Regions from separate parts of the Homo sapiens genome. Here all the other regions are linked to region 1. The links come from fine-mapping of genetic effects on gene expression. A gene starts in region 1. Each other region holds a variant in brackets. All regions are shown on one strand. Distances are from middle to middle.

Region 1 (10,750 bases):
AGATGTTCAAAGAATACAGGAGAGAACCAGGCTCCTTCTTCCTAATGGCAACATCTGGCATTTATGTAGCCAGGCACCTTTGATCCTTAAGGATCCCAAAGCACTTTACAACCTGCTGTAGTGCTAATGGCCATAGCAACGATCATACAGTAAACATGGCCAAATATTCCCCGTACTGGTTCCCTCCTCTCCATTCTGCAGTGTACACACAGTTTTTCCTTCTGGAAGGAAAGATTCCAGTTTGGATCCAAAACATCTCTTTTGTTTGTCATTTTTTGCTAAGTTTGTTCAGAACTGCCTTTTTTTTTAACAAAAATACTTCACAATCATTTCTTAATAAACAGTACTTCATTTACATTTTCAATTATCTTATAAGCCCATTTCTGCCCCTCATCCTCATCCCTCCCACTCTAGAGAAAGATGGAAATGTTCTTCTCTCCTGGGAGTCAAGAATCTGCATTGCGGATGAGGTTGCAAATTCAGACACAATAAACAGAATTAAGAAAAACTGAGCTGGCGTTTGACAGAAATTGTAAAATGACACTCAGAAATGTTGCTCTTGTGGAAATTACTGATATTAAAATATAAATCAGTGTCTTGTGTTTCCCATAGCACCAGGGGCTCTATTAGGTTATGCAGTTTGATTGCTGAGCTGAACCTAAGAGACTTGGCAGTTCAGAGCTGAAGTTATCACAAAGCATTTAACCCTTCTCCTGCTGGAGAGCAGGCACCTCTGAGAATGCCAGTTGATAATATCGCCCTCAAAAGTCCTTGACTTTTTTGTTGAGCCCTTTGAAACCTGGGAGAAGGTGGAGGAGGGCTGGGTTGGGGAGAGAAGATAAAGGAATTTGGAAAATCTTTTCTTAAGACAAGAGTCTTGTTGCATAGTGCCAGCCCAGGGCAACTCAAGAAGCAGAGTCTATGTTGGAGAGTTTATGGTGGAGAGGGCAAAGAAAAAATGCCCATTAAAATTGTCTGAATATTACCCCATTACATTATTTATTTAATCCCCATAACCACCCTGTAAGGTAGGTATTATTGTTCCAGTTGTTTCCAAATGGGGAAACTGAGACTCAGAGAAGTTAACTTGAGTCAAAATGTGAGCCCTGACTCCATGAAGAAGTGGCTGAGGCAGGGAAAAGTATAAGATGAACCTGGAGCATCTCGTACCCAAAAGTAAGAATGTGCTTAAGAATGGGTATTGTTGAAAGGGCTCAGGAGCCAACCTTTGGCCCATTGGCCAAAGCTGGAACATTTGAGCAACAAAATAAATAACAGTATTAGATTATAGCCCATATAATAGATATCCATGAGTTCATAGTGATGTAAACAATACATTAATTAAATGGGTGAGAAAGAGCAGCTCTTTCTTACAGAAGAGTTCCAGCGAATAAATGTAGAAGAAATAAAGGAAAAAGAAGACCCCCATTAGAATACTACTGTAACAATTATTGCAAGTGAGATCCACCTTGCTAAAGATAGCAGGTGACAGTTTGAAGAAAAACAGGATATTTGTATACTCTTAAAGTATCTCCCTTAATATATTTATTAATTATAGTGGGGAAAAATAATAACTTTATAGTAGATAAACCCAGTAGACACCAGCATAACCAGGTGACCAAGGTCAACATCATCAGGGATAAGATGCATTGATATCATGTATCCCTGACATGATACACTAAGAAGGTGTATGACACACTTGCCCAAAATGCATAGCCTCAATCTCAGCACAGAGAAACATCAGGCACTTTGGGAGACCGAAGCAGCCAGATCGCTTGAGCTCAGGAGTTTGAGACTAGCCTTGGCAACATGGTGAAAACCTGTCTCTACAAAAAAATACAAAAATTAGCCAGGCTTGGTGGTGAGTGCCTGTAGTCCCAGCTACTTGGGAGGCTGAGGTGGGAGGATTGCTTGAGCCTGGGAAGTCGAGGCTGCAGTGTGCCATGTTCACACCACTGCACTCCAGCCTGGGCAACAAAGTAAGACTCTTTCTCAAAAAGAAAAAAAAATCAGGCAAATTCAAATTGAGGGGCATTCTATGAATTAACTTTCCAGTACTGTTTAAAAGTGTCCAAGTCACGGAAGACAAGGAAAGACTGAGGAATTATCATAGATTAGTGGAGTCTAAAGATATAAAACAACTAAATGCAATGTGGAATACTGAATCAGATCCTAGAACAGAAAAAGGACATTAGTGAAAAAACTGGTGACATCCTAACAAAGTATGCAGTTTTGTCCATAGTTTTGGACCCATGTTAATTTCTTAGTTTTGATCATCGTATCATCATGTAAGATGTTAATATTGGGGAAACTGGGGAAAGGGTATACAGGAACTCTGTGTACTATTTTTGCAACTTTTCTGGAAATCTAAAATTATTTCAAAAAGGTCTGTGTGTTCCTGTTCTTTCACCAGAATAGATCACTTCTACCTTTGGGGAGAGACAAAGCAAATCACAAACAACCATAATAAAGGCAGATCATTGTGTTAAAAGAGGTATGGGAAAAGGGCTGTAAGGGGGAAAGGGTACACACCTGGCAAGGCTGCTGTGAGGATTAGCTCTGTTATTTTATGTTCAGAACACTGCCTGGCATATAGTAGCTGCCATACAAGAGTTAATGTGACATGTAGTTTAGGGAAGTTGAAAGAAATGGCAATTGGGTTGGGTCTTGAAGATGTGTGACTTTGGACAGGCAGAAAGAATATATCTCGTAAAGAAAGAAAGAGCAACCAATTGGGAGAATTTTCTCCATGTCAGTCAATGATAATGGCAACAAAGATTAGGTGGACTGTGTACTTCAAAATGGGAAATTTTCCAAAATGGCATGGGAGTAATAGTGGTGGCAGTAGGAAGGCTGAAATGTTCCTCTCTCCCTGACCCTGGCTGTTTCTACTCCATACAGCAAATAGAGAAGGAGAAAGTGAACACAAAGAACTGACATCTCAAGAGAAAACCAAGGCAAGTCGAGAAAGGGAAGGGGCATTTGAGAAACATATCTGTGGAATCGCTGAAGAGCTGGTCCACCATGAAACAGGGGTTCCAAAATGTAGAGTATAAGCAACTAGTGGAGGTGCTAGAAACGGTGAGTGAACTGTAGAGAGAGATCTCTGAGAGTAACTTAAATAAGTGTGTTTTGTCAGTGTCAGCTTGCATTAGATTCAGGTGTATGAAACAGAAAAATTAAAAACAAAATCATTACTTAAGCAAGATAGAAATTGCTCCTTCTATCCAGGGCTGGCAATGATAGTTCCATAGCATTAAGGCCTCATGTTCCAGATGGCTGGTGGAACACCAGGCATTAAGTCAGCATTACAAGCCATTAGAAAGGTGGGAAGAACAAAGAGCTGTGCACTACTTCTCTTTCAGAAGATTTCATGGAAGTCCCCACAATACTCCATTTTATGTCTCATTGACCAAAACTTAGACACATAATCATACCTAGCTGCAAGAGAGGCTAGGAGATAGAGTCTTTTAGATGAGTGCATGCACATCCCAATAAAATGAGCATCTGTTACTAAGGAAAATAAAGAGTATGGATGTTGGAACAGACAACAAACAGCCTCTGTGAAAGGTAGCAAAGAAGAGAGCCAGGGGGAGACATTTTCACCTAGGACAGTGAGTCTCATAAATCCTGGATTCCTTCTCCTGCTCCTCCTGGCCCCTAATTTCTTCTGTCATTCAAAAGCCTCTTTCTGGAGAGACCCAACTAGCCCTACTTTCTCTCCAGAAGAACTCCAGTCCTGGAATTGGACTGTGGCTCAGTCAGTGACATTGGTGTCAGGTTCCTATTCACTGTTACTCTGCAGAACCCCAAACCCTGGCAAAACCATCTCCAACATCATCTCCTCATACCATCTCCCCCTACCAGTTATGCTCTGCACTACCAGGGATTTTCTCCTTTAGAACCGGGTTTGGATTCAAAAAGGCGAACTCTCTGCATGCCAAGCCTCTGCACACCAAGCCTCTGCACATTGGCTCCAATCATACTTTCTGGGTAGAAATAATTAGTATACAATAAGTATCCCTGTCTGTTCATGGGGCTCACACATTTTTAAAAATAGAGAAAACCTTTAGCTCCCTCTCATCATTTCAATAATTAAGAGCTCTAAGATTCATCACACTTTTTTCACTGGTAGGAGGTAGAACATTGGAGAAAAATCTAAAGCCCAACATAAGTAAAGGAAAGACTTATGGCTTAGTATAGGTAAGCCTGAGTTAGTTTGTATTATCCCACAAAGATAGCTTTAATTTTAAACCAAAAAAGCATCTCTTTCCTGAAAACCCGGAAACATGTTTTAGATTAGGAAAAACAGACCCTTGATATTCTTCCATCCAGGCCATGAAGGAAAAGGAATAGTCGGTGTTCCTTGGAGCAACAAGGTTGCTGTAAGGCCAGGAGTCAACCATATACCCAGGCACTTACCAGTTCCTTGGGGAGGGAGTCAAAATTAGCAGTCTGTGATTACGGCATTTGTGTAACCCAATGTGGGCAGGTGGTATGTGAAGTACTAACTGATGTGTTTCACATCCTGGCCTGCTAAAACTGCATTTCAGAGAACTTGTTCACTTATGCCCCTTTTCCTTCCTCTCTCCAAAACCACACAAAGACTGTTTGAGTTAGGAAAGAGGAGGAATAGGGTAACTGGAACATAAGCAGGAGAATTAGACCCTGGTGAGATCTATGAGATGGGGCAGAAGGGAGGGAAAACAATAGATTCCCAGATAGGTTTAGTGATCGAAGGGCAGAGGGACTTTTGATCAAAACCAGGAAAGTGAGCATTCTGTCCTCTTTCTCTCAATACCTTTCAAGGTAAAAGATAGAATGCTGATAGGACAAGTCTAAGAGACAGTCTGAATCTACTCTCATGTGGTGTGTGTGTATGTATGTGTGGTATGTGTGTGCATGTGTTTGTGTCTTGATGGGGAACAGGGAGGAGCATCTTCAAAGGATGAGGAAGTGCCAGATGACCCAAAGCCCTTAGGATGAGGAAGACACAGGATATAAGGTGATATGGTTTGGCTGTGTCATCTTGAATTGTAATCCCACAATCCCCATGTGTTGTGATAGGGAGCTGGTGGGAGGTAATTGAATCATGGGGTGTTTTCCCCCATGCTGTTCTCGTGATAGTGAATGAGTTCTCACGAGATCTGATGGTTTTATAAGTGTCTGGCATTTGCCATGCTGGCACTCATTCTCTCTCCTGCCACCTTGTGAAGAGGTGCTGTCTGCCAAGATTGTAAGTTTCCTGAGGCCTCCCCAGCCATGCAGAACTATGAGTCAATTAAACCTCTTTTCTTTATAAATTACCCAGTTTCGGGTATTTCCATATAACAATGTGAGAACAGACTAATACTAGTACATGTGGCCTACTGACCAGGACAGTGACACCTCGGCATACTCTAGCTAGGAGAGATGCCCATGACCATGGACCACAAGCTTCCCCTGGTGCCAGGATCCAAACTGGGACCTCAAAATCTTAAGCACACTCTGGAGACGCCTTAAAGAGGTTGAGAGAATCATGAACTGTGAGGGAATCATGAACTGATTCATTTTTAACCTGAAAGTCGTGGTGCTTTCTCAGAAATAACTAAGATTGTGTTTTCTGCCATTTGGTGAAAATGGGGCTAAACAAAAACACTGAGTAATAGAAAGAGTTACTTTCTCTTTTTGCACACCTGACTTGATACTTGCTACCTTAGTCACCCATTTGAGGTGTGGTGTTAGGTGTTTCTTGGGAATCTGCAAGGTGCTCTGATAGTAGACTGAGGGAAGGCACAAAACATCACTAGAAGCTCTGACCAAGTTTTTGTTTTCACTACAATCATTTCTTTAGGCACAGCTGTCACCAAGAGAAGTCCTACTTTGAAAAGCAGATGGCAGGAGTTTTGAATACAAAAAAGGAGTTGCCTGGGCAGATGGCAGTAGACAAGGCATGAAGAAATGAAGGTCTCAACAGAGACGCAAGAGGCAGAACAGAATATGTAAGAACAAGGGTTCAAGAAGAGGGAGACATGAGCAAAGTCCTGGCTTCAGAGAGTCAGTAGCCGGGGATCTGGTAGAGAGTCCCTGCCTCTGGGATGAGCCCTTCCTCCACAAAATATCTGTCCAGCCATACTCCTCAGTCAGACAGCACTGTGAAGGTTCACATGGCATTTCGTAAAGCCTGTGGGGCTCCCCCAAAACACTCTTCCCTATCCATCTGGCAAACATTACTGTCAAATGTATCAAAAACTTATCATATAACACTTCCAGTTTTTTCATCATAAGCCCTTCCAAACTGCCTGCTGCTATTGTTAATGACTGAAGATTCTGACATCTCCTTCATGGAACAAACTCCAGCTCTCTTTTTTTCTTCCTACTTACCTTACTTAGTAAATTTCAATATATTTTCATGCAAATGTTAGAACCTATGCCTTCTACTTTTCCTTCGAAATGCTCTTGGCTCTTGCAACTACAGCTGTGTAACTCCATAGCGGATGAAACCATCACAATCTAGAAAATCATTTCTCTGTCTTTTGGACAAGATTTCATTTGATTTCAGAATCATCTCCTGACTATCCAGTGGGCTTGCCTGCAAAGAAGTATGATTCTCAAGGATACATTTGTTCCATTACAACTTTTTGTATGATACTTGGGTGAGTTCATAGTTCCTCCTAAAGAAAGGTGTCCATCGTGGTAGAGCACTGAATCAGTGAACTTTAAAGCTAGGAAAGACTTCTAAAGGCCATTTATTATAGCTTCCTAGCTTACAGAAGCAGAAATGAAGCCTCAGAGATATGAAGGCCTTTGCAAAGGCCACTCCTCCAGTGAGGTGCTGAACCAGGTTTAGAAGCTTGGTGGCCTAGAATCCTGTTTAGTGTTCTTTTATGCCACGCTATTTTTAATCTTGCTTGACTAGTGTGGAAGTCATTTGTGAGTTCGCCAGTACAGGCATACCTCGTGTTACTGCTCTTCACTTTACTGTGCTTCACAGATATTGCATTTTTAACAAATTGAAGGTTTGTAGCAATCCTGCATCAAGCAAGTCTATTGGCGCCATTTTTCCAACAGCATGTGCTCCCTTATGTCCACATCAGCATTTTTTTAGCAACAAAGTATTTTTAATTAAGTTATGCACCTTGTTTTCTTAGACATAATACTATTGCACGCTTAGTAGACCACAGTATAGTGTAATCATAGGTTTTCTATGCACTGAGAAACCAAGAAATTTGTGTGACTTGTCTCATTGTGATATTCGCTTTATTTTGGTGGTCAGAAACCAAACCCGCAATCTCTCTGACATATGCCTATATTTCTTTGAGGAGGTAAAGGAAGAAGTTAGGCATGGCCATGTGACTTGTTTTGGCTAATGAAATGTGAGCAGAAGCAAAGTGTTTCACTTCCGCTTTAAGAACCAGTAGGTGATTCACCAAGTTCCCTTTCTGCTACCATGGCAACAGGCAACATACTAGATAATAGAAGTTCACCAGCTGAGGACTACGAGGATATTGAGGACAATGTGGAGCAGAGCCCCAGCTGACTCATAAAGGACATGTAGCATGAGTAAAAAATAAACCTTCACGGTCGTAAGCCACTGAGACTTGGGGGTTGTTTGTTACTACACCATCACCTAGCCTGTCCCCACCAGGTGAGCCTGAGCCACACCTCCATTTCCATGATGCACCTCTGTGCATGAAGACTTCAGAGGGTACTCAATGCAGGAAATCAGAATTCAGCTCCATAAAACATTCCAGATTCCACATATCACCAACATTCTTTCTTCCTCTTGGCTTATATTAGGGATAGGGGATGTGGTTTGTTACAAAGGATGAGTATTTTGATAGCTTCTCATTCCTTGAACTATTCTGCAGGTAAGTTCCTGGTGGAAATTCCTCTATTCTTAGGGTTAAAAACAGAATGAATGAGATGATTTTAATAAGCTCAGTGCATTATGACCTCAAATGCATCATCCTGTACTTACATGCACATACATGTGCAAAGATCTTTGGTTTCCTGGGAGGCTTTCTAGCTAGATAAGTCTCAGCACTTCACATGTTTCCTAACTTTATGAGCATCAACATTATGGCAAGCTGATGCTTCAAAAACACCATATCATCAGATATTTCATATGAATAGTTACAAAATTAATGGAAGCTCCTCATAGAGTAGTAAGAGAGCCTCTGTGACCCTGGGTAAGTCACTTAGCCTCTCTGGGCCTCAGTTTCCTTATCTTTAAATGAGGATAGTAGTAGTCCCTGCCTCCCAGGGTTCATGTGAGAATGAAGTTAGGTCATGCACATCATGTCTGGTTCATAATAAGTACATAATATTAGCTATATCTGAGCCATAGAGTACATAGAAATCTAAAAAGTAAACTCGATTCAGACTTTTTGCTTTCCAAGAAGGGTAAATTCAGAAACTGTTTGGTTCACCAAGTAGTGGTTTTCTGGAAAAGATGTAAAACCATGGTCCTGCCATCTGGAGGTTTTAACACCCTTTTAAAAACACAAACAGATGGGTAAGCAAGTGGGTATTGCTAACAGTTCAGGAAAATTTTCCAAACCTCTTGCTGAGGGCATAGATCCAGCTGGGAAAATCTTTAAAGGGCAGAGGCTCATTTATACTTTTTCCATCTTAAATACTTGGACTTTTTCAGGTTTATAACAAAGCTCAGAAAATACTAAAGGTTAAAGGAGAATTGAGAGCTGCCAAGGAAATGAAAGATGAGGTAAGGCTCCTAACTCCTCTACATGCATGGAGTTGAATATTCATTACAAGGGACTTTTTTCATGTTTTATGATTCAAAATTCCAGTAATAAGCATCACAAAATATCATGGACAGAGGTGGGCAGCAGAGCATCGTGTTTAAGAGCCCAGACTCGAGCTGGGTGGGTCTGGGTCCATATCTACCAGCAGTATGATACTGAGTTTGTTTCCTACTTTTAAGTTTCCTTTGCCTTATCTAGAAAATATGAATTGTGATCACCTACTCTAAGTTTCCTTTGCCTTATCTAGAAAATATGAATGATGATCACCTATTCCAAAGACTTGGTATGAGGATTAGCAAAGGTAGTGCATGTAGAAAGCACTTAATCGATATTAACTATTGTTGCTAACATTCTCTCTTTATCTGGAATGATATGAAAATGGAGTGTCTGATTAGTTTAATATTTTGGTCAAACTGTGTTTATGGGGCCAGGCGCAGTGACTCAAACCTGTAATCCCAGCACTTTGGGAGGCCGAGGCAGGAGGATCACTTGAGCCCAAGAGTTTAAGACCAGCCTGGGCAACATGGTAAGACCCCTGTCTCTACAAAAAATAAAAAAAATTAGCCAGGTGTGGTGGCACGCTCTTTTGGTCCCAGCCACTCAGGAGGCTGAGGCAAGTGGATCACTTGAGCCTGGGAGGTTGAAGCTGCAGTGAGCCATGATCACACCAGTGCATTCCAGCCGGGGCGACAAAGACCCTGTCTCAAACAACAACAACAGCAGCAAACTATGTTTATGTATGCCCTACCTTGTTCCAGAAAGGATTTAAGGGGACTTTTTTGATGAGTAAAGGATTGTCCCATGTACCATATGCTTTTTAACAGACCTCCTACCAAGAGGTGAGCAGATTCTGAAACAGGCAGTCCACTCCTTTCCTGCTGCATTACTGGAGCCATACAGAACTTCATACCAGTTCTGTGGGGAACAAGGATCTCGTATGGATTTTCTAGAAGGCTCTTTCTTCATTTAATTTATATCTTTGGAGCACCTTCAATATGCCAGGCGTTCATTGTTCTAGGAGCTGGGAATAAAGCAGTGAACAAAATAGACAAAGATCTCTACTCTCATGGAGCTTACCTTCTTAGTAGAATAATTTCTCAAATGATATGATAGTGAAAAAAGTCTGTGAAAATTGCCCAGGTGCCAATAAAAATCAGCCCACGTTCCATAGGTGGCTGATCTCCAACATATGTCATATGTATCCTAGTCTGTATACTTACAGGGTGTGCCAATTTTGTTTTTATGGCAAACACTAATCTAGCCTTCCATGATATGTGTCAGACAGTGTTCTAAGTACATTGTATTTACCAATGCATTTAATCCTTGCAACAACCTTAAGAAAGCCATAATTATCTCTATATTATACATGGGGAAATGTAGGCACAGAAGTTAAATAACTTGTGCTTGAATACACAGCTGATAAGGGGATCTCTCAGATATCTTTTTTAATTTGTTAATCTGTGTGTGTGTGTGTGTGTGTGTTTATCTTTCTTACATTTCATAATGTTTTCTTTATTTTTTAAATCTTTTTTATTATACTTTAAGTTCTGGGATACATGTGCAGAATGTGCAGGTTTGTTACATAAGTATACACCAATTTTAAAAGAATTTAGAACACCATAAAATATAGTCACTCCTCAGTATATGAACATAATTGGTTCTAAATTTTTGTTCACAGGCAAAACCTTGTATAAGTACCCATTAATTTCATTCATAAGTAATGCAAAAACTGTAATATTTCTATAAATGGAAAAGTCAACTTGGGAATCAAGTCAGTAATATCAATAATAGTGTTTAAAATTACTGTAGATAACTGTAAACTCTACTATTACACAAGTGAAATGTAAGAATTCCTGAATCAATATTAGTTTTTAAGGTTTCATGATTCTTAAGGCATAACTCTTACCATAAATTGAATGGTTGTGATATTAGTGGTGGTTAAAAGTGGTTTCCCATTGATTATTGAAGATTTGTCCTCATCCTCAGACAAATAAGATAATATC
Region 2 (10,750 bases), 600 kb before region 1:
CAAAATGAGCCAATGAAAAAGTTTTTAAAAGATAAAAGATATAAAAGAACAGCATCAGAATTAGAAAAATCTACAAAATTATCATTTTTCTTGAATCCATCAGAGAGCTGAGGTTAGATAACAATGAAGAAAACTGAATTCCAAAAAGGAGCAAGCCCTTTCAGGAAGAAAGAAGACTCACAACTATCTTACCTTTAGCACAGCATAGGAGAAAGGGCCACTCTAAAAATCTATAAGAAATCAAGTACAAATGTGACAAAATGTTAATGACCAACTGAAGGCTAGTTCAGTATGGAATACCTAGGATGAGGGTGGGGACAGGCATAGATGAGTGAGTTTAGCACTCACAGGCATAGATGAGTGAGTTTAGCACTCACTTGCTACTCTTTTCTATGGGCCTCTACCAGGCCTACTGGAGGTGATCAGCTAATGTTAGGAAACAAGCATTAAGCACAGCCTGTTTCAGAGGACCTTCTCCCTTACAAAGCAAAAGCACTGGAGGAAGGGATAGCTAACCCTACTGCCCCATGGACACAGGCAAAAGACACTTTGTGGCGAGGAAAGAGGGTAGAAGGAAAAAACTCTACACCCCTAGGGCAGGGGCAGGAGCAGGAAAAGGTCATGGGTACAGGATCCTACACCAATACGCATCAGATATCTGCTACCACTAAGGGAGAAACAGAAAACTCTTGCCCAACACCAACAACTCAGAGTAGAGTTTGCTGCTATGGGGAGGAGGAGCAGGAACATGGAGAAAGTCCTTTTGGGAAAACTCTTGCTCAACACCAACAACTCAGAGTAGCGTTTGCTGCTATGGAGAGGAGGAGCAGGAACACGGAGAAAGCCCACTGCCAAGCCCTTTTGCCAGGGCCTGCCTAAGATGGATGCTAGACCTGGATCACCAAGAATACCCACTTCCTGCTCCTACCATGAACCTAACGCTGAGTGAGAAAAACCCACTGTATGATACCCAAGCCTCCACCCGAAACACAGGGCAGCAGCAGCCCACAATTAGAGGATGTGAAGTCTATGGTATACTGAGGTTACTCTTCTTGATTTATTGACTCAATCTCCTAACAAACAAAAAGCATGTCCCTATCTGGGCATAAATACTATTTACCTTACTCCCTACTGTTCTACACACAATGTTATAAAAAAGCAGCAACCAAACATCATGTCACTATCTATGGAAAAGTATAACATTAGCCAGGCACAGTGGCTCATACCTGTAATCCCAGCACTTTGGGAGGCCAAGGTGAGAGGATTGCTTGAGCCCAGGAGTTTCAGACCAGTCTGGACCACATAGCAAGACCTTGTTTCAACGAATCTTTTTATTAGGTAGCCAGGAATGGCGGCATGCACCTGAAGTCCAAGCTACTTGGGGGGCTAAGGTGGGGCGATCATTTGAGCCAGGTGTGGGGGCGGGGGCAAGGCTACAGTGAGCCGTGATTGGGCTACTGTACTCCAGCCTGGGCAACAGACCAAGATCTTGTCTCTAGATCCAACTATGAATTCCTAAGGTGTTACAGGCTGAATTGTGTCTCCCCTCACTCCCCACCCCAAATTCAGATGTTGAAGTCCTAGGAATGTGACTGTATTTGGAGCTAGGGTATTTAAAGAGGTAAACTTAAATGAGCTTATTGAAGTGGGCCCTAATACAACATGACTTATAAGAAGAAGAGATAGGGACACAGACAGGCCCAGGGATAAGACTACATGAAGACACCACAAGACGACAGCCATCTACAAGCCAAGAAGAGAGGCCTTCAGAAGGGCCAACATCTTGATTGTGGACTTCCAGCTTCCAGAATTGTGAAGAAATAAACTTCTGTTAATTCTTCCAGTCTATGATATTTGTTTTGGCAGCCCTAGAAAACTAATACAAAAGTTATATAGAGAATAGAGGAACACATTAAACTATAGCACAGGGATGCAATAAACCAAAAGTAGACTGTGGGAAACTCTCTATATTAAACAAAGAGATATCTTTTTCAAATAAATTGCAATGAGAATGAAGGCATTGGAAGGAAAAAGCTTATGCATTAAAATATACCTAAAAACCTTATTTTTAAAAACAATGGCAATGTAAATGTAATTGGATCCTGATTCAAACTATATATTTTTTAAAGTTACGATATTTAAGACAATTAGAAATTTGATCATGACTAGAAATTTCATAATATTAAGAAAGCATCATTAAAGGAAAAAGTACGAAATTTAAAGTCCCGGGCCCCTACAAAAGAGGATTCTAACAGGAGACACCTTACACAATAAACTAGGACCAAAAGAGGCTACAATCTTGAGGTAGCCTCAACGGGTAATCCATACATAGAACAGGCCTCATCCAGATTGACAGTCTGAGTTCCAATTCACCAGGAAATCCGTGGAATCTCAAGATTTAAAATTGGTTTTCTGGACTGATAGTAGCCACAGTTACCTGACACAGCAAATATAAAGCTTCACTAGCAGAAGGTACATTCATTATATACCTAAAATTATCTCTACAAATAATTTTCAAAAACACAGTATTGTGTCTGGAATTTATTCCTTTTGGTGGGTTCTTGGTCTTGCTGACTTCAAGAATGAAGCCAAGGACTCTCGTGTTGAGTGTTATAGTTCTTAAAGATGGTGTGTCCAGAATTTGTTCCTTCAGATGTTCAGATGTTCAGAATTTCTTCCTTCCGGTGGGGTCGTGGTCTCACTGACTTCAGGAATGAAGCCGCAGACCCTCGCAGTGAGTGTTACAGCTCTTAAAGGTGGTGCGTCCGGAGTTGTTTGTTCCTCCCAGTGGGTTCGTGGTTTCGCTGACTTCAGGAATGAAGCCACAGACCCTCGAGGTGAGTGTTACAGCTCATAAACGTAGTGTGGACCCAAAGAGTGAGCAGCAGCAAGATTTATTGTGAAGAGCAAAAGAACAAAGCTTCCACAGGGTGGAAGGGGACCCGAGTGGGTTGCCACTGCTGGCTTAGGTGGCCAGCTTTTATTCTCTTATTTGGCCCTGCCCATGTCCTGCTGATTGGTCCATTTTACAGAGTGCTGATTGGTCCATTTTACAGAGTGCTGATTGCTGTGTTTACAATCCTTTAGATGACACAGAGCGCTGATTGGTGCATTTTTACAGTGCTGATTGGTGCATTTACAATCCTTTAGCTAGATACAGAGTGCTGACTGGTGCGTTTACAATTCTTTAGCTAGACACAGAGCGCTGATTGGTGCGTTTACAATCCTTTAGCTAGGCAGAAAAGTTCTCCAAGTCCCCACTCAACCCAGGAAGTCCAGTTGGCTTCACCTCTCAGTATCAGCTCACAAAGATAAATAAAACACAAGGAAATTAAGACTCCATGAGTGAGAAACAGGAGACAACAGAAATAGAGCCTTAATGACTTAAATGTTCAAATGATCAAATGCAGAGAATGAAATGACTATGCGGAATATACCTGAAGAAATTTTAAAAAGAGCTTAGGGATGTAGTCACTGGACAAGAAAGTAACATTCAAATGACAAAAATACAATAACTAAAATTAAGGACTCAATGAATTTAACAGTGGACCGGGCATAGTTAAATAATTAATGAATCAGAAAACAGATCAGAAGAATTTACCTAAAATGCAGAACATAGAGAGAAAAAGAGAAAATACAGATGAAAGGGTAAGATATATAAAGCACATGGTGAGAGGGTCTGACATATATTCAGTCAGTGTCCCAGATGGAGAAGAGAAAGACAATGGTAAAGAGCCAGTATTTGAAGAGATAACAGCTGAGAATTTTCTAGAAATATTGAAAGAGACAAATCCAGAGATTCAAAGTACAATGGAAAGTAGAAGAAGAACAGGGAAGTAAAGAAAATAATTATATAGGCCAGGAGTTCGAGACCAGCCTGGCCAACATGGCAAAACCCCGTCTCTACTGAAAATACAGAAATTAGCCAGGCATGTTAGCACATGCCTGTAATCCCAGCTACTAATAAGGAAGCTGAGGCAGAAGAACCTAGGGGGCGGAGGTTGCAGTGAGCTGAGATCCTGCCACTGCACTCCAGCCTGGGCAACAGAGCAAGATTGTATCTTCAAAAAAAGAAAAATTTTACAAAAAAGAAAACAAAAGAAGTATACATATCATAGTGAGGATGCAGAAAACTGAGGCCAAAGTAGGCATAGAAAGCAGACTTGTTACCTTCAAAGAAATAGCTTTTAGATAGTCAATTGGTTATGCAACACAAACAATGGAAGCCAGAGGACAGTAGAATAATATCTTCAATATGCTCTAATAAAATAACTACCAACATAGAATCCTATACCCAGAAAAGGATAATTTTAGAATAAAGGCAAAATAAACACATTTTTAAATGAACAAAAACAGAGTTTGCCACTTGTAGACTGATTAAAGAATGTACTTCAATTAGAAGGAAAATGGTCCTAGACAGAAGATCTGATACAAAAAAGACATGAACATTTTAAAAATATTGAAACTGTACATAGGCAAATCTAAATGAATACATATAGTATGAAACAATAACTGTGTAACTTGAAAAAAACTATATAGAAATAAAATGCACAACATTAGCATTTAGATTAGGAGAGGGTAAATGAAGTTAAAAATCTTTTAAAGTTCTTGTTTTGTCCAGGAAGTGAGAATAATTATTATCATTAGCCTTTATATGTAAATAATGATGGTTTTAAGTCTTAGGCATTTATGAATTTGTATTTAATACTCAAAATTACAAGGCAAATGAGAGGCGAATATTCCATGAGTTCAATACATGGTCAATAAATTGAGAAGGCATTTTTGCCATAGAGGGGAAAACAACATTCAGAAAAAAGATGAATATATTTTAATTTTCAAAAATTCATTAGCAAAATAGAATATATCCATTAGCCAAACTTCAAACTCTATTGTCTTTAACAACAACAACAAAAATCCTTGAGTACTAATGTTTTTACTTGCTTAAGTCATATTTATTTAGGTATAATCAACATACAGAAAAAAATCATCCTTTTCAGGTACACAGTTCTATGAGTTTTGACAAATATGTGTGTGTGTAATCACACATATTTTACTGTGTAATCACCAGTAAATATAAAAATAAATACTAAATTGTTTCCATTACCACCATAATGTTCCCTCCTTTGTTGTTAATGCCCTTCCAATCCCCAGCCTAGGCAATGACTAATCTTAATCTGTGTTCTTTCCCCGTAGCTATGCCTTTTATAGGATATAATATAAACAGAATTATATAGTATGTAGCCTTTTGTGTCTGGCTTTTTTCACTAAGCATAAGACTTTGGAGATTCATCTATGTTGTTACATGTATCAGTACCTCCTTCTTATTGCAAAATAGTGTTCCATTGTATGGCTATGC[T/C]ATGATTTAACTATCTGTTCATCAGATTATGAATATTTGGGTTATTTCCAGTTTGGGGCAATTTTTAATAAAGTTGTTATAAACATCCATGTATAGATCTTTGTATGAACATATATTTTCATTTCTCTTGAATAAATGCCTAGATGTGGGATCATATGGTAAATGGTAACACATAACCAGATAACACATAACTTTATAAGATTGCTACCTGTGGTGGACAGACTCTAAAATAGCCCCAAATTATCTTAGCCTCCTGGTATGTGTATCCTTGTGTAATACCTTTGTCTTGAGTCTGGGTGGAACCTGTAACTTGCTTCTAACCAATAAAATACATCAAAGGTGATGGGGTGTCACTCCCATGGCTGCATTACATAAGTTTGTAACTTCTCTCTTGCTAGTAGACTTTCTTCTCATCCTTCTTGGCTCTGATGAATTAAGCTGCCACATGGCACAGTCCAGTGGCAAGAAAATGAGGGCAACCAATAGGCAGCAATGAACTGAGGCTTTCAATGATAGAGGCAAGGAACTGAATCCTACCAACAACCACATGACCTTGAAAGAGGATCCTTCCCTGTTTGAGCTTCAGGTGAGACCCCAAGTGTGACTGACACCTTGATTGAGGCTTTGATAGAGTCCTTGAGGCAGGGGACTCAGTGAAGCTGCATCTAGATTCCTGACACATACAAACTGTGAGATAATAAATGTGTGTTGTTTTAAGCTGCTAAATATATATAACTTATTATGCAGCAATTGATAATACATTACCTAAATGTTTTCTAAAATGATGATACCATTTTACACTCCCACTAACAATGCATGAAAGTTCCAGTTGCTTTGAATACCACTAGAGTGATATTGTCAATTTTGTAAATTATAGTACTGCTAAAAGGTTTGTACTGGTATCTCATTGTGATTTGAATTTGTTTCTCTAATGTAGGAGTTCTTTGTATATTCTGAATGCTAGTGCTTTGCTAGTTATACATGTTGCAGATACTTCCTCTTACTCTGTGGCTTGCATTTTGTGTTCTTCGTAATGCCTTTTGATATGCTGACGAAGTTCCTAGTAAAGTCAAATTTATCAGCATTTCCTGCTCTCATAAATGATTTTTTTTTTTTTTTGAGACAAGAGTCTTACGCTGTCAACCAGGCTGGAATGCAATGGTATGATCTCCGCTCACTGCAGTCTCCAACTCCCAAGTTCAAACAATTCTGGCGCCTCAGCCTTCCAAGTAGCTGAGACTACAGTCATGTACCACTATGCCTGGCTAATATTTTGTATTTTTAGTAGAGACGAGGTTTTACCATGTTGGCCATGCTAGTCCCAAACTCCCAAGCTCAGGTGATCTGCCTGCCTTGGCCTCCTAAAGTGCTGGGATTACAGGCATGAGCCACCATGCCTGGCCTCATAAATGATTTTTTTTTTTTAAAGAAATCCCCCCTACCCCAAGGTCATGAAAATATTCCTCTATATTATCTTCTAAAAACTTTATTATTTTGCTAAAAGGGATTTTGGGTGTACAGTCTGCCTTAAAGTCATGCTACATAGAGGTCCAGTTTTATATTTTTTTCACACATGGATAAGGAGAAAAGATAGAAAATCTTTGTGACCTTAGGTTATCACAGATTCTTGGCTTAGTCACAGCAAGTAAATATCACAGAAGGAAAACTGACAAATTAGACTTGAAATTCAAAGCTTCTGCTCTTCCAAGTACATTGTTAATAACGGTACATTTAAGTCTTAAGCCCTTTTCTATATTTGTGTATTTTCTACAATAAAATGGATTTTAAAAAATAAAACATGCAGAACAGGTTACATAGTATGCTAACATTTATTTTATATGTATATATACTGTATCTATGTGGGAGTGTATGAGAGAGAGCATGCGTGTGCAAGCAAGCACACATATTGAATATAAGAGGGACTCACAAGTAACAACTGTCACTTTTGAGGAATTGGGAGCATCAGGGATGGGAGAGAGACTTAATTTGTATTGTATTCCCTTTTTACTGTTTGAACTTTATACCAAGTATATTACTTTTACAAAATGTGTTTTAAATGTTATTTCAAAAATAACAAAACAAGAATTACATGTTATGCCAGATGTGCCTAATATTACAGTGGGCCAAGAAAACTGGTCCATCTCAGGTTTATTTTAGTGAAGAAGACATTTAAATATAAATGTTGTTTCCTGACACCACAGCTTATTGCCTTGGGCTGTTTTGTAGCTGGTTACATCCCTGGTTTTAACTGGTTTGGTACAGTGATGCCATAGTAAAGTTTTATACACTAGTGATGAAAAGTTACTTGCGAACAACAAAACCCAACAGGTTATTTGACAAGGCTTAAAAGTATGCCATTGATCTACTTTGGGTTTCATCCTGATGTTTATTGGAGATAAAGGCATTTCTCTCCCAGAAACCTGGAGATTTACTCCTACTCATATCACTTAAATAAAATGGCAAAGCAAACCTACTAAAGCAAATGCCCAGAATCATGAGGTAGCCAGCCCAAACAGTCTTATGGCACTGTGGCTAATGCCTATAATCCCAGTGCTTTGGGAGCCCAAGGAGGGAGGATTGCTTGAGACAGGAGTTCAAGAGCAGCCTGGACAACACAGTAAGACCCTATCTCTACAGAAAATTTAAAAATTAGCTGGGCGTGGCGGTGTATGAAAGTAGTCCCAGCTACTCAGGAGGCTGAGATAGGAGGATGGCTTGAGGCCAGGAGTTTGAGGCTGCAGTGAGCTAGGAACATGCCACTGCACTCCAGGCTGAGTGATACAGCAAGACCCTGTCTTAAAACATAAACAACAACAACAAAAAAACCAGTCCTAAGCATTCTCTAAAAATTACTTGTTGTTTTGGATTGCTGTACGTGAATTACTGTGGGCTTTTTAAGTACTCACAAAAGCTTTTCTAGATGACAATACTCACAGGAGGAAAAATCGAGACAATCAGAATGAAGCTCCTATTTAGTAATGTGTTTAGTAATGTAGTAAAATTTTAGTAATGTATTAATGTTAGGAATATGAAAGAAAGAAAATTCTATGCAATAGTTAACAACTGATTCAGCTGAGAATACTTCACTTAATCCCCTTTCCTAAAGGCCCATTATGTATAGCTGTTGTTTCCACCACTAGGTCATCCCGTTCTATTCTCTTGCTTCATCCTCAGCTTGCTATCTCAAATCCTTTTTTGAATGAGGACTACATGTACACACTCCTCAGGCTTGCTCGCTTGCTTTCCTTTCTCTCTCCTTTCCTCCCTCTCTTGTGTATGGGAGGAATGGGGGTGGGTTAAGATCCCACTTCCAGTGACTGATTATAAATGCCCTTCCTTATAATACACTGAGGGAACCACAGGACATCTTTTCCTCTTCTATGAACTTCCGTAGTCAAAAGCTCAAGGAGGGTAGTCATGCTGCTCAAGCCTTTTTTTTCTTCATCTGCTGAAATGTTCTTTTGGTAAAACACACCATAACATAGTATGATAAAGATAAATGAAGGACATTTACTGAAGGAAATGAAATATTTTCGGAAACCTCACTTCTTATATTTCTTTTTCAAGAATGATCTAAGTCATAGTTTGGTGTTTTGTTTTTATTTAGTTTAAAGTTCCATTTGGTATAAAGACTGGCTATATTAACATACAAGAAATGGTGATTTCCTAGCAGGAATTTACACACTATTTCCTTCATTTTGATATCTAAATATAACCAGCACAACTAAACTCTATAAAGGTAAGCACTCAAGATCAGATTAATTTATTCAATTTTAGGTTTGGACTCAGCACTTTAAAGCCATGCTCTTTATTAAATGCCATGAAAGAGTGAATCTACAGACAGGCGAGATTCAAAGGCCAAGGGTATTTTTGTAAGTAACGACCTTGTTCCTGTCTTCTCTACCATAACTTTGAGAAATTATGAACAGTGTGAATCTAGAATACGATTTCTGATTGCCTAAGAAGAACAGAATGTTAATCTTGGCATTAATATGAGATATTTCAATCTGAAAAGCAGCAAGTCTTTCAGGATTCTAGAAAGACAGCCAAAGAAAAGGATGTCAACAGGAACACCAAACCCAGTAAAGACATATAGTCTGAGACATCTAGGACATCCACTTTGTATTAATGTGATAGTTCTTATAATGAGAGAAAATATTAAAAAAAAAAAAAAACCCAGGCCATCAGATGTTCTAAGAATGAAATATCGTATCTAATTATGTGACAGTTTTGCTACCAATATCTACCTAACAGTTCCCTTTCTTCAGATAAAAACCTCAAATTCTGCGCACGCGTGCACGCATGTGTGTGTGTGTGTGTGTGTGTGTGTGTGTGTGTGTTTAGAGACAAGGTCTCACTCTGTCACCCAGGTTGGAGTGCAGTGGTGCAATCACAGCTCACTGCAACCTCGATCTCCTAGGCTCAAGCAACCCTCCCGCTTCAGCCTTCTGAGTAGCTAGAACTACACGCACCACCGCCATACCCGACTTGCTTGCTTATTTATTTATTTACTTATTTAGCAGACAGTGTCTTGCTATGTTGCCCAGGCCAGTCTCAGACTCCTGGCCTCAAGCAAATGCCTAGAAATGACTGACTTGGACTGTTGCTGCCTTTTATTTACCTTTTGTTTGCTTGAAGCACTTCAGGACTTTTCTAGGATCTATCAATTGCTCAGCACCTTATAGGCTGTGCGGGATGAGGACTGGAGAAGTGGAGGACATCCTTATGAGATATATTTGTTTTCAGAGAAGGCTGTGTCTCTGTTTATCATTGCAGGCAAAGAAGATTTGAATCTGAGACACTGTAAAACTTGAAGCAGAGTTTACAATCTGTGCTTGAGGATCCCAAAGACACCATTCAACACATCTCACTATCCTCTAACAAGGACTGCCCTGTGACACATCTGAAAGAGAAGCAACAATTTTATTCAGACTCTTCATGGACTGGCCCTCTATTTGGGCAACTACATAATATGTAGATCTTTGATATCATATCTGAGAACAAAATTTTGTCAGCTGTGCAGGAACCAAATTATCCTGGGATATAGTAAAATAAACCACAAACTACCTTTTCCTATTTATCAAGCAGAGCAAAATGATATCGCTTCCTTTAAATCTGGGTTGTTTCCCTTTTTTCTTACCTAACCAGCCCTTCAACCTGGGGCTGGAACTGATTGGGACTTTAAAATGCTTTGTTACCATTCATTCTTTTCTCTAATAAGCACAATGGTTTACTCCCTTTTGAGGCAGGGGCCCCGTGTAATGAGTCAATGCTTCTGCTAACTCCAAGAACCCTTAATTATTTCCACCATTTTCTCCATATGTTTCCTTCACCGACTGTGCGAATCAGAGGCAGGCTGCTGGTTGTCAGAGACTGGAAAAGTCACTGGCCTTC
Region 3 (10,750 bases), 460 kb after region 1:
TTCCTGAGTAGCTGGGATCATAGGCACGTTTTTTTTTTTGTTTGTTTGTTTTGTTTTTTTAGTAGAGATGAGGTCTTACCTTGTTGCCTAGGCTGGCCTTCAACTCCTGGGCTTAAAGGCTGTCCCTCCTCGGCATCCCAAAGTGCTGGGATTACAGGCATGAGCCACCGCACCCAGCCCCAAAACATTTTTAAAGCGCTGACATATTCTTTCTCTATCTCATCCCATCCCTCCCCACCGCTTTCACAATATTTAATAACGTGTGTATTCCCAGATATGAGTCTATATTGTTTTAAAGTTTTGAATGCAGAAACATCTTCTACCTAAGAGTATTTCACATTGTTTTTTTTTTTTTCGTCTTTTGTTTTTTTTTCCGAGGTGGAGTTTCGCTCTTGTTGCCCATGCTGGAGTGCAATGGCACGATCTTGGCTCACCGCCTCCCGGGTTCAAGCGATTCTCCTGCCTCAGCCTCTCGTGTAGCTGGGATTACAGGCATGTGCCACTACGCCTGGCTAATTTTGTATTTTTAGTAGAGACAGGGTTTCTCTATGTTGGTCAGGCTGGTGTTGAAGTCCTGGCCTCAGGTGATCCGCCTGCCTCAGCCTGCCAAAGTGCTGGGATTACAGGCATGAGCCACCGCACCCGGCCGTATTTCACATTCTTGCAGAACTAACTGAATATGGAGAGTTACTTTACCAGACCCTGTTTATACCATGTATATCTTATTATTGTATGTGAGTGTGTAATAGTATATCACCTTTGAACTGATCATTGCCCTCATGGAACACTTTTAGAGTTAAAAGTATAAAACTGGGCTGGGCACAGTGGCTAACTACTATAATCCCAACACTTTGGGAGGCCGAGGCGGGTGGATCATTTGAGGCCAAGAGTTCAAGACCAGCCTGGCCAACATAGTGAAACCCCGTCTCTGCTAAAAATATTTTTAAAAATTAGCTGGGCGTGGCCAGGCGCGGTGGCTCACGCCTGTAATCCCAGCACTTTGGGAGGCCGAGGCTGGTGGATCACGAGGTCAGGAGATCGAGACCATCCTGGCTAACACAGTGAAACCCCGTCTCTACTAAAAATACAAAAAATTAGCCAGGCGAGGTGGTGGGCGCCTGTAGTCCCAGCTACTCGGGAGGCTGAGGCAGGAGAATGGCATGAACCCCGGGGGGCGGAGCCTGCAGTGAGCCGAGATTGTGCCACTGCACTGCAGCCTGGACAACAGCGACACTCCGTCTCAAAAAAAAAAAAAAAAAAAAAAAATTAGCTGGGCATGGTGTTGTGCACCTGTAATCCCAGCTACTCAGGAGCCTGAGGCAGGAAAATCGCTTGAACCCGGGCGGTGGAGGTTGCGGTGAGCCGAGATCGTGCCACGGCACTCCAGCCTGGGCAACAGAGGGAGATGCTGTCTCCAAAAAAACAAACAAACAAAAGTGTAAAATTGAAGCAGTGGGTATTTAATTCATGGCTTACCCTCAAGACTTTTGCCTTCTAGAAAGATTTTTTTTTTTTTTAAAGACAGAGTCTCCTTGTGTCACCCAGGCCCATAGCTTATAGAAGATACGAAGTTACAACTAATGTCGGTGTGTGTCATGAGATTCTTTTTTTTTTTTCAAGAATAGTTTTGGGTGTTGAGCAAAGTATGTATAAACAATTAATGCCAAAAAAATTAAAAAAGATACTTTTTAGAGAGATAGCCTCATTGTGTAGCCCACGCTGGAGTACAGTGGCGTGATCTCCGCTCACTGCAGTCTCCACCTACTGTGTTCAAGCGATTCTCATGCCTCAGCCTCCAGGGTAGCTGGGATTACAGGCATGCGTGCCACCACCCCCGGGTAATTCTTCTGTATTTTTAATAGAGACGGGGTTTTGCTACGTTGGCCAGGCTGGTCTCGAGCTCCTGACCTCAGGTGATCCTGCCCGCCTCAGCCTCCCAAAGTGCTGGGATTACAGGCATGAGCCACTGCGCCCGGCTAGAAAGATCTTTAAATCTAAAATACGCTCTTTGTATACTTGTTTGATGTAAGAGGTAATTGTCATTGTGTTCCCTTTCAAATAAATTTGTGATAACAATTCTATAAGAGTAAGGGGAAAATAATTTTCTCAACCTAGCAATTCCAGTAGAATGGTGATTCTAAAAGTTGAAAGCACCTCAGAGGACCGTGTCATCTGCAGTCCTGGCTCCTAGGAAGGTTTTTCCAGCAGTTAACTGATGTGTTAAGCAGTGGAGCAAGACATTCTTGAGAAGAAGGAAGCACTAGGCAATTCAGCAGTGGCTAATAACAGCTAAACAGTCCATCTAGATTGTTGCTGTAAGCCTTTGCTTTGCTTAATATCCAGGCCTTTTAAGTGCCCATCGGTCAGGTTTAAGAGAATGATATATACTGAAGTTGTAACTTAGCAGTTTATCTTCTTAGGGCGGAATGTATCATGTAGACAGGAGATAGATCCTTTGAGGTAAATGATGACCAACAGCGTGTATATTTTGTTGTTGTTGTTTTAATCTTTATTTTATTTTAATTTTTTTTGAGACGCGGTTTCACTATGTTGCCCAGGCTGGTCTTGAACCCCTGACCTCAAGTGATCCTCCCTCCTTGGCCTCCTGAAGTGCTGGGATTACAGGCATGTGTTTTGTTTTTTTTTTTTTTGAGATAGAGTCTTGCACTGTCACCCAGGCTGGATTGCAGTGGCGCAATCTCGGCTCACTGTGGCCTCCGCCTCCCAGGTTCAAGTGATTTCCTTGCCTCAGCCTCCCAAGTATTTGGGATTTCAGGCGTGCACCACCACGCCCAGCTAATGTTTTTGTATTTTTAGTAGAGACGGGGTTTCACTATGTTGGCCAGGCTGGTCTCGAACTCCTGACCTTGTGATCCGCCTGCCTTGGCCTCCCAAAGTGCTGGGATTACAGGTGTGAGCCACTGCGCCCGACCGCATATATGTTTTGATAATGTAAAGTTCCTTAAGGAATTTATAATCTAAGGTAAATATATATGCACTAAAAATGACTGTTAAAAATCCTCACAGAAGAAAAATCAGGCCTGGTGTGGTGGCTCATGCTTGTAATCCCAGCACTTTGGAAGGCCCAAGCAGGAGGATTGCTTGAGTCCAGAAATTCAAGACCAGCCTGGGCAACATAGCAAGACTCCATCTCTTAAAAACATACAAAAAATTAGCTGGGTGTGGTGGCATGTGCATGTAGTCCCAGCTACTCTGAAGGCTGAGGCTTTAGGATCACTTGAGGTCAGGAGTTCGAAGCTGCCGTGGGCTATGATCACGCCACTGTAGTCCAGGCTGGGTGACAGAGCGAGATCGTGTCTCAAAACAAACAAAACTTCCTGGAGTCTTCCTTGACTTTTCTAAGATTTAGAAGGTCAGTGGACCATTATTTGACCTTAGAAAGTTGTTCTGAAGACGACTTTTTTGTTTGTGTGAAACAGTGTCTGCTTACTCTTTTTTCTCCACTGAGTAGAGAATGCGGAGCTTTGTATAAATATTGCTATACTATATGGAATACTGTTTTCAGATGGTCCAGTTAATCTTTCCCAAAGATTAAAAAATGAGGAGTATTTAAAATTTAACAGTATTTACCTACTAAATATTTAACTATTAGCAGTATTTGACTATTCAGTGGTTAAAATTACTTAGTACAAATACGATGGTCCCTATGTTTATGCAGTAAGCCCTTGAAAGCCCTTTCATTCTGAGATGTTCAGCTTTGAGAAAATGCATTTGATGAGAAAACTAGTTCTCACTTGTAGCAGGGATTTATCCTACTTCTCTAAAGTTAGATTCAATAATCCTCATGGTTTTGAATAGCAATGCCTAAATCCCCAAGATCTGCAAAATGATCAGTTTTCCTGAGTTCTAAATTTAAACAATAAAGCCATTCTTACTCTTGTTTTTCTTTTTTCCCACATAGAAATACCTGCTAACTTTTCATTCCTCTTTCTCTGACATCTTTAGAAATGTATTACCCTCAAATATTTAATCTTAGTAATTATAAAAATAGTATTTGCTGTATTTATAGGTATTTCTATTTTCCAATGAGGAATACTACTGAAAGTATTTTATTTACTCCCATTCACTTTGCAGCTGCTGCAAAGATGTAGGGTTCTCCATAGAAATGGGAATTTTCCCCCCCAAGTTTGTTCAGCTTCTTGCCAGAGCTAATTGGACTAAGGTACAGATTGGGAATAGGTTTCTGTGATGTCAGCTGAGTTCTACAAACACTTCTGTGTCACCCAGGTGTTAACATGCTAGAAATGGAGAAGAGGAAGAAATATCAAATAAATAAATAAAACCCATTGTCATCGATGTAGTATTAGAGGTGTACTCAAGGTGAAGAAGTTCTTAATTCTGTCTAGATAATTCATTAATTCTGTCTAGTAAAAATGTCTGGTAGTCATTAATTCTGTCTAGGGAGAATAAGGATAGGAGATATGGAAGGCTCCATAGAGAAGGTGATGCCTGAGTAGGATTTTGAAGAATAACTTGTCATATGGATGAGGTGGAGAAAGCCATTTCAGACAGGCCACAGAATTGTGGTGTACTTGGTGTGTTTGGAGAGCTGCAGGTAGTTGGAGGTGATTGAAACATGGAGTAAAGGGCAGTAGTAGGGAACGAAGCTGGAGAGGTATGGCTGCGGAAATGTCAGTGGAAATTTCTTTTTTATCAAAAAGAACAGAAATAGCCCATCATAAAAATAGAGCAGGCAAATGCTGATCTTTAGAAACTTGTTATATTACCTGTAGAAATTGTTTTTGCTTTGAGATAACTTGGCAATATATGAATTTCACATACCTAAATTATCAAATGCGACATTAATTTTTTTTGAAACAGGGCAGGAATGGAAAGTATATTTGTGCAGTATTGTGTTGATACTACACTTGGCTTATTTGGGATGTAAAGCAAAGGGTTAGGACCCTAGAGAAACACACATTTTCATAAGGAGACATGTACAAAAATGTTTATTGCTGGATTGTTTCTAGCAGTGAAAAATTGGAAGCAAACTGAATGCTGTCAACAGGAGAGTGGATAAAGTTTGGTGTATTTGTATAAGGGAATATTATTCAAATGAATGAACTGGGTATATTAACACAGTTGTATCTCTAAAGCAATATTGAACTAAATAAAATTACAGGGTGAAACATAAGTATTGTTAAGGATTAGATGAAGTTTAAATTAGATAAGACAATACTGTGTATGGTTTATAGATTAAAGTTTTTTTTTTTTTTTTGAGACAGAGTCTCTGTTGCCCAGACTGGAGTGCGGTGGCACAATCTCGGCTCACTGCAATCTCTGCCTCCTGGGTTCAAGTGATTCTCCTACCTCAGCCTCCCAAGTAGCTGGGATTACAGGCACGTGCCACCACACTCGGCTAATTTTTTGTTTTTTTTTTTTTTTTGTATTTTTAGTGGAGATGGGGCTTTACCATGTTGGCCAAGCTGGTCTCGAATTCTTGACCTCAAATGATCCCTCACCTGGGCCTCCTAAAGTGTTGGGATTA[C/G]AGGTGTGAGCCACCTTGCCCAGCCTAAAGTTTCTTTTTTTTTGAGATGGAGTCTTGCTCTGTCACCCAGGCCGGAGTGCAGTGGCGCTGTCTTGGCTCACTGAAACCTCTGCCTCCCAGGTTCAAGCAATCTTCACACCTCTGCCTCCCAGGTAGCTAGGATTACAGGCGTGTGCCACCACAGCTGGCTAATTTTTTTGTATTTTTTAGTAGAGATAGGGTTTCACCATGCTGGCCAGGCTGGTCTCGAATTCCTGACCTCAGGTGATCCGCCAGCCTTGGCCTCCCAAAGTGCTGGGATTACAGATGTGAGCCACTGTGCCCAGGCAAAATATTAAAATTTCTATTTTTGAGAGACAAGGTCTCGCTCTGTCACCCAGATAGGGTTGCAGTGGCACAATCACGGCTCACTGCAACCTCAATCTCCCGGGTTCAATCTGTTCTCCAACTCAATCTGTTCTCCACCCTCAAGTAGCTGGGACTACAGGCGTGTGCCACCATGCCTGGCTAATATATAAAAAAAAATTTCTTTTGTAGAGATGGGATGTTGCCATCTTACCTAGGCTAGTCTTGAACTCCTGGCCTCAAGCAGTCCTCTTACCTTGGCCCCCCAAAGTGCTGGGATTACAGGCCTGAGCCACTGCAACCCGCTGTTTCGTTATTCTTGACACGTTTCTGAAAACACAAGGAAAAGAGAGGTCAACGAAGATGATGGATGGAAACACAGACAGCAGTAAAGAAAATTAAGTTATCTGAGTTATTACGAATGAGCATGATAGATGTGAAGTGCTCCACAAAAGGAGGGGATACTTGAGCAGAATGTTGGGGAATATAAAGTAGAGAGAGGTGGGGTGAGGACTGAAATGTCTAATTCAGTCAGATGTTCTAGCTAACGATTTCTTTCTCTTGATATTTTTTAGAGAAATATGAAACGCAATGGGAGCAGAAATTGTTTGAATAGGAGAAGTAGGTTTGGTTCTCGAGAAAGAGACTGGCTAAGAGAAGATGTAAAGAGAGGCTGTGTTTACCTTTATGGAGCAGACACTACCACTGCCACTACAACCACCACCACCTCCTCTTCCTCTTCCTCCTCCTCCTCTTCCTCTGACTTACATCTCGTCCTTTGCACTGTAGAGACACCAGCATCAGAAATATGTGCTGGAGAGGGAAGAGAAAGTCTTTATTTACAGCTTCATGGAGACCTGGTCAGGTGAGGTCTCAGTTTTACCACTCTAATTCTACCGTAATATAAATAATAATGTGTTTCTGCTTAGAACTGGACTTTAGGATTTTAATTCTGCCGGAACTGATGTTGATTACGGACTCACTGGGCTTCAAGATTTGTCCTTGGAAGGCTGACTTTATGAATCTTGAATTTAAAAACTATTGACCAAGGAAAATTTGAGAGTTCTTTGATTTGGAATACACCATAGGTCAGATATCTAAATTTAAAAATAAGTATTTTAAAAGTTAAATTTTTTTGGCTGGGCACAGTGGCTTATGCCTATAATCCCAGCACTTGGGGAGGCTGAGGTGGGTGTATCACTTGAGGTCAGGAGTTCGAGACCAGCCTGGTCAACATGGCGAAACCCTGCTGCTACTAAAAATATAAAAATTAGCCAGGCATGGTAGTGCGCACCTGTAATCCCAGCTAGTCAGGAGGCTGAGATATGAGAATCTCTTGAACCTGGGAGACCAAGGTTGCGGTGAGCCGAGATCATGCCACTGCACTGCAGCCTGGGTGACAGCAAGACACTGTCTCAAAAAAAAAAAAAAGAAAAGTTGTTGTTTTTTTTTTGAAAAGTGTAAATAGAATGAAATTTTTAAAAAGGGTATAGAGTGAGAAGTACTTTTCTGTCCCTCATTCCCCAACTACCCAGGCCTGTTCTTGATAGTTATTACCAGCTTCTTTATGCACGCTAGGAATATTCTGTTAAATTATAAGCATATATGTGCCCATGCGTGAGTATGTGTCTCTACATATATTATAAATTTTAAAACTCATGGTGCTGTATGCAACACATTATTGACTTAATATCTTTTAGAGATCTTTCCATGTTAAAATTTATATAGTTGTCACTTATTTAATGGCTGCAGTAGTGTTCAATTTTGAGTCTACTATAATTTTAGCCAGTCTTCTATTAATGGACATTCAAGTTGTTACCAGTTTTTTGCTACTACAAGAAGTGCTGCAGTGAGTATCCATGTACCTGTGGTATCTCTCATATGTGAGAGTCTGTATGATAAACTCCTAGAAGTGGAACTGCTGGGTCAAAGGATATTAGTATTGTTAATTTTCATAGTTACTGTCAAATTCTTCTTCATAGAGGTTATATTTCCATCAGAAATATGAAAGTATATCTATTTTCTCCTTACTTTCTCAAAAATATGTTAGTAGTAAATTTTATGTATAAATAGAGGCACATACACATGAATGAGCTCAGACTTGCTCTTAAATAGAAATGATTGTTAAAAGTTTTAAAATTAGAGAATCATAAAGTCAGCATTCCAACGACAAATCTTTTTCTAGGCCAAGTGACTTAGATTTCTGCAAATGTGAGAGGAATTTTGTTGTTTTGTTATTTTAATTTTCATTTCTCTTAATGAGCATATTTTCATGGGTTTAAAAGCCATTTGTGTGTTGAAAAATTTTTATGCAAATGTGAAGAAAATATTTTTATAATAGTCTTATACTATGCATGTGAACTCTTTGATTCAGCTTTTTAAAGAAAATCGCTGTTAGTTCTTTGAATTAGTTGTCAAATAAGAGGTCTTTAAATGCCTGACCATGATTTTTCTCCTTTCTGCATTTCCTGTCATTGAAAAAGTGTCTTGAAACAGAATTCAAAGCTGTGGATTTAATACTGTTGAAAGTGAAAAGGAAGCTCCCACTTACACCTTAAAAGTGTGGTAATAATAGTAACACCTTTAGCTGAGCTAAAATTTGATGTCATTTTTAAAGTCTAAACTGAGATCTACTATGTGTTCCTTTTAGGATTTGGACTAATTCCTGAAAAAGTAGATTAGCATTTGAATGTTTTCCTTGTTCACCAGTTTACTACATTTGCTAAATCCATTTGTAAAACGAAAGGATCAGACTGGGTGATCCTTAGGCTTTTCTAAGTCTTAACACTGATTCTGATCTAATTTTATCAGGTGGAAAGCCTTGACCTATATTATATCTGGTAGTGATTGATTAACTTATTTAAGTATATGGTGTATTCATTTGTATAGTAATGTTTATGTATACAAAGATATTAGAAATACGAAGAAAACCCCACTGGAATGGCTTGCTACTAGTAGTTGTGTAATTAGTTAAGAATCCGAATGTGATAGTTTATTTACTTATGTGTTTATTTACTTATGTGCCCTGTAGCCTTCATCATTTATAATGAAATAGCCCTTTGAAGGTATAATTGATTAGAAAATAATGAAAGCACTATTGAACTGTGGTTTCAAAGAATGAATATATTTTCATTGCTGGAGTAGGAGCTCAATAACTTTTATCCAGCTAAGGATGATGATGATGGTAGATTTCAGCTAACATTAAGTGCTTTCATGTGTTGGTATGCTTAGTGCTTTATGCACATTTTCTCATTAAATCCTCACAATAACTCCAAGGGAGGTAGTATCGTTGCTTTTAGATGAGGAAGATTGAGGCCTTGAGAGAGATTCAGTAACCTGCTCAAGGACAGGCAGGTACTGCCCTGCAGTTGGAATGCCTGAATCATTCAAGGTAGATGATGGACTTCTTTCTGAGTAAAGGCCAGCTGTGACAGGAACTGGCGCAGCAGTGACACTTCCTCAGTTTCACTATTTAATCATGCTTATTTCAAGATTGTTTTTAGATCTGTTACTCAGCTGTTACTTGTTTATGATCAGTTTTACATTATCTAATCAAGGGAGTATTTTCTGCGTAAAAGCCCTTTGTCAGATAGTTGACAATCTAAGGCATTATCTTTTTAAGGAACTTTTTGCTGATTACTGAAGTATGTTCACCGAAGAAATTTTGGAAAATGAAAAAGCATAAAGAGAAATGATAATCAATGCTTATGCTTTATGTAAATTACCTCATTTAATCCTCACAACCATCTTGTGAGGTAGACGCTGTCCCCATTTTATAAATGAGGAAATTAAAGTTTCACAGGGTTAAGCATCTCATCTAAGTGCAATCGGCTACTAAGTGGTAGAGCTGGAGTTTGAATCCTGGCATTCTTATACTACGTCTGTCTTCTGTATTGCCTCCCCATAGTAACATTATTTTTACCCAGATCTTTTTTCAATCCCACATACTTTTAAATATTTATGTATTTGGGCTCACATCATATTCAGTTTTATATCCTGTCTCCTGTCTACTTAGTGGATCATCTTAATTCCTTTTTTTTTTTTTGAGACGGAGTTTCACTCTTGTTGCCCAGGCTGGAGTGCAGTGGTGCGATCTCGGCTCACTGCAACCTCTGCCTCCTGGGTTCAAGCGATTCTCCTGCCTCAGCCTCCTGAGTTGCTGGGATTACAGGCATGAGCCACCACACTTGGCTAATTTTCTGTATTTTTAGTAGAGACGGGGTTTCTCCATATTGGGCAGCCTAGTCTCAAATTCCTGACCTCAGGTGATCTGCCCGCCTCGGCCTCCCAAAGTGCTGGGATTACAGGCATGAGCCACCGTGCCCGGCTGGATCATCTTAATTTCATGGTGTCATTAGAAATTCTTTAGACACCAGTTTTAATAGTTACAGAATATTCCTCTGTATGGATATACTATAAATTGAGACATAATATGCAGCAATGGTTTAGAGATTGGATTCTGGAATGAGAGTGTATGGGTTCAAATCCTGGCTTCGACAGTTACTATGCAGGATATATAATGCTCTGTGCTTCAGTGTAGTAATCTGTAAAATGGAAGATGATAATATTTACATTGTTGAGTTGTCATGAGGATTAAATTATAAATGATATGAAGATTAAATGAATTAATATTTGTAGTGCTGCTTAAACTGTCCACCTGTGGGGCTTGTTCAAGTACAGATTCTGATTCAGTAGGTTTAGGTGGAGCCTGAGAATGTACATTTCAATTAAGCTCCTAAGAGATGTGCTGTACTTCAGATAGCAATAAAGTACTTAGATTGATGTCTGGCACCTAACAAGTGCTCAATAAATATTACCTATTTCAGTTGTCTGAAATCATGCAAGTCTTAGAATTGGTGTTGCATTGACTAAACCATTGCCCATGTATTGTCACAT

Direction of the effects. Alleles are on the strand shown, and positions count from the first base shown. SD is a standard deviation of normalised expression in the study named. Not every link is listed here.
With allele C in place of T in region 2, the expression in prefrontal cortex of the gene that starts at base 7,749 in region 1 is higher (large effect, 1.4 SD a copy in CommonMind).

The links. PIP is the estimated chance that this variant, and not a neighbour inherited with it, causes the effect.
Region 2: its variant is the best candidate, but not a certain one, in a credible set for the expression of PMFBP1 in prefrontal cortex (CommonMind, PIP 0.78).
Region 3: its variant is the best candidate, but not a certain one, in a credible set for the expression of PMFBP1 in putamen (GTEx, PIP 0.50).

Annotation. Positions count from the first base shown.
Region 1 is chr16:72,169,154-72,179,903 of GRCh38, reverse strand. It overlaps PMFBP1 (polyamine modulated factor 1 binding protein 1), which reads left to right and starts at 7,749. Exons shown (of 21, transcript NM_031293.3): 1 at 7,749-7,850; 2 at 8,636-8,707. The coding sequence starts at 8,696.
Region 2 is chr16:72,764,475-72,775,224 of GRCh38, reverse strand. All of the region lies in intron 3 of ZFHX3-AS1 (ZFHX3 antisense RNA 1), which reads right to left. Among named protein-coding and RNA genes, the nearest start is that of ZFHX3-AS1, 100 kb to the right of the region's middle. RefSeq lists an enhancer at 3,294-4,493. The variant T/C (reference allele first, on the strand shown) is at 5,357.
Region 3 is chr16:71,710,481-71,721,230 of GRCh38, reverse strand. PHLPP2 (PH domain and leucine rich repeat protein phosphatase 2) reads left to right here. Exons shown (of 19, transcript NM_015020.3): 2 at 6,430-6,719. The coding sequence starts at 6,436. Among named protein-coding and RNA genes, the nearest start is that of PHLPP2, 8.8 kb to the left of the region's middle. The variant C/G (reference allele first, on the strand shown) is at 5,510.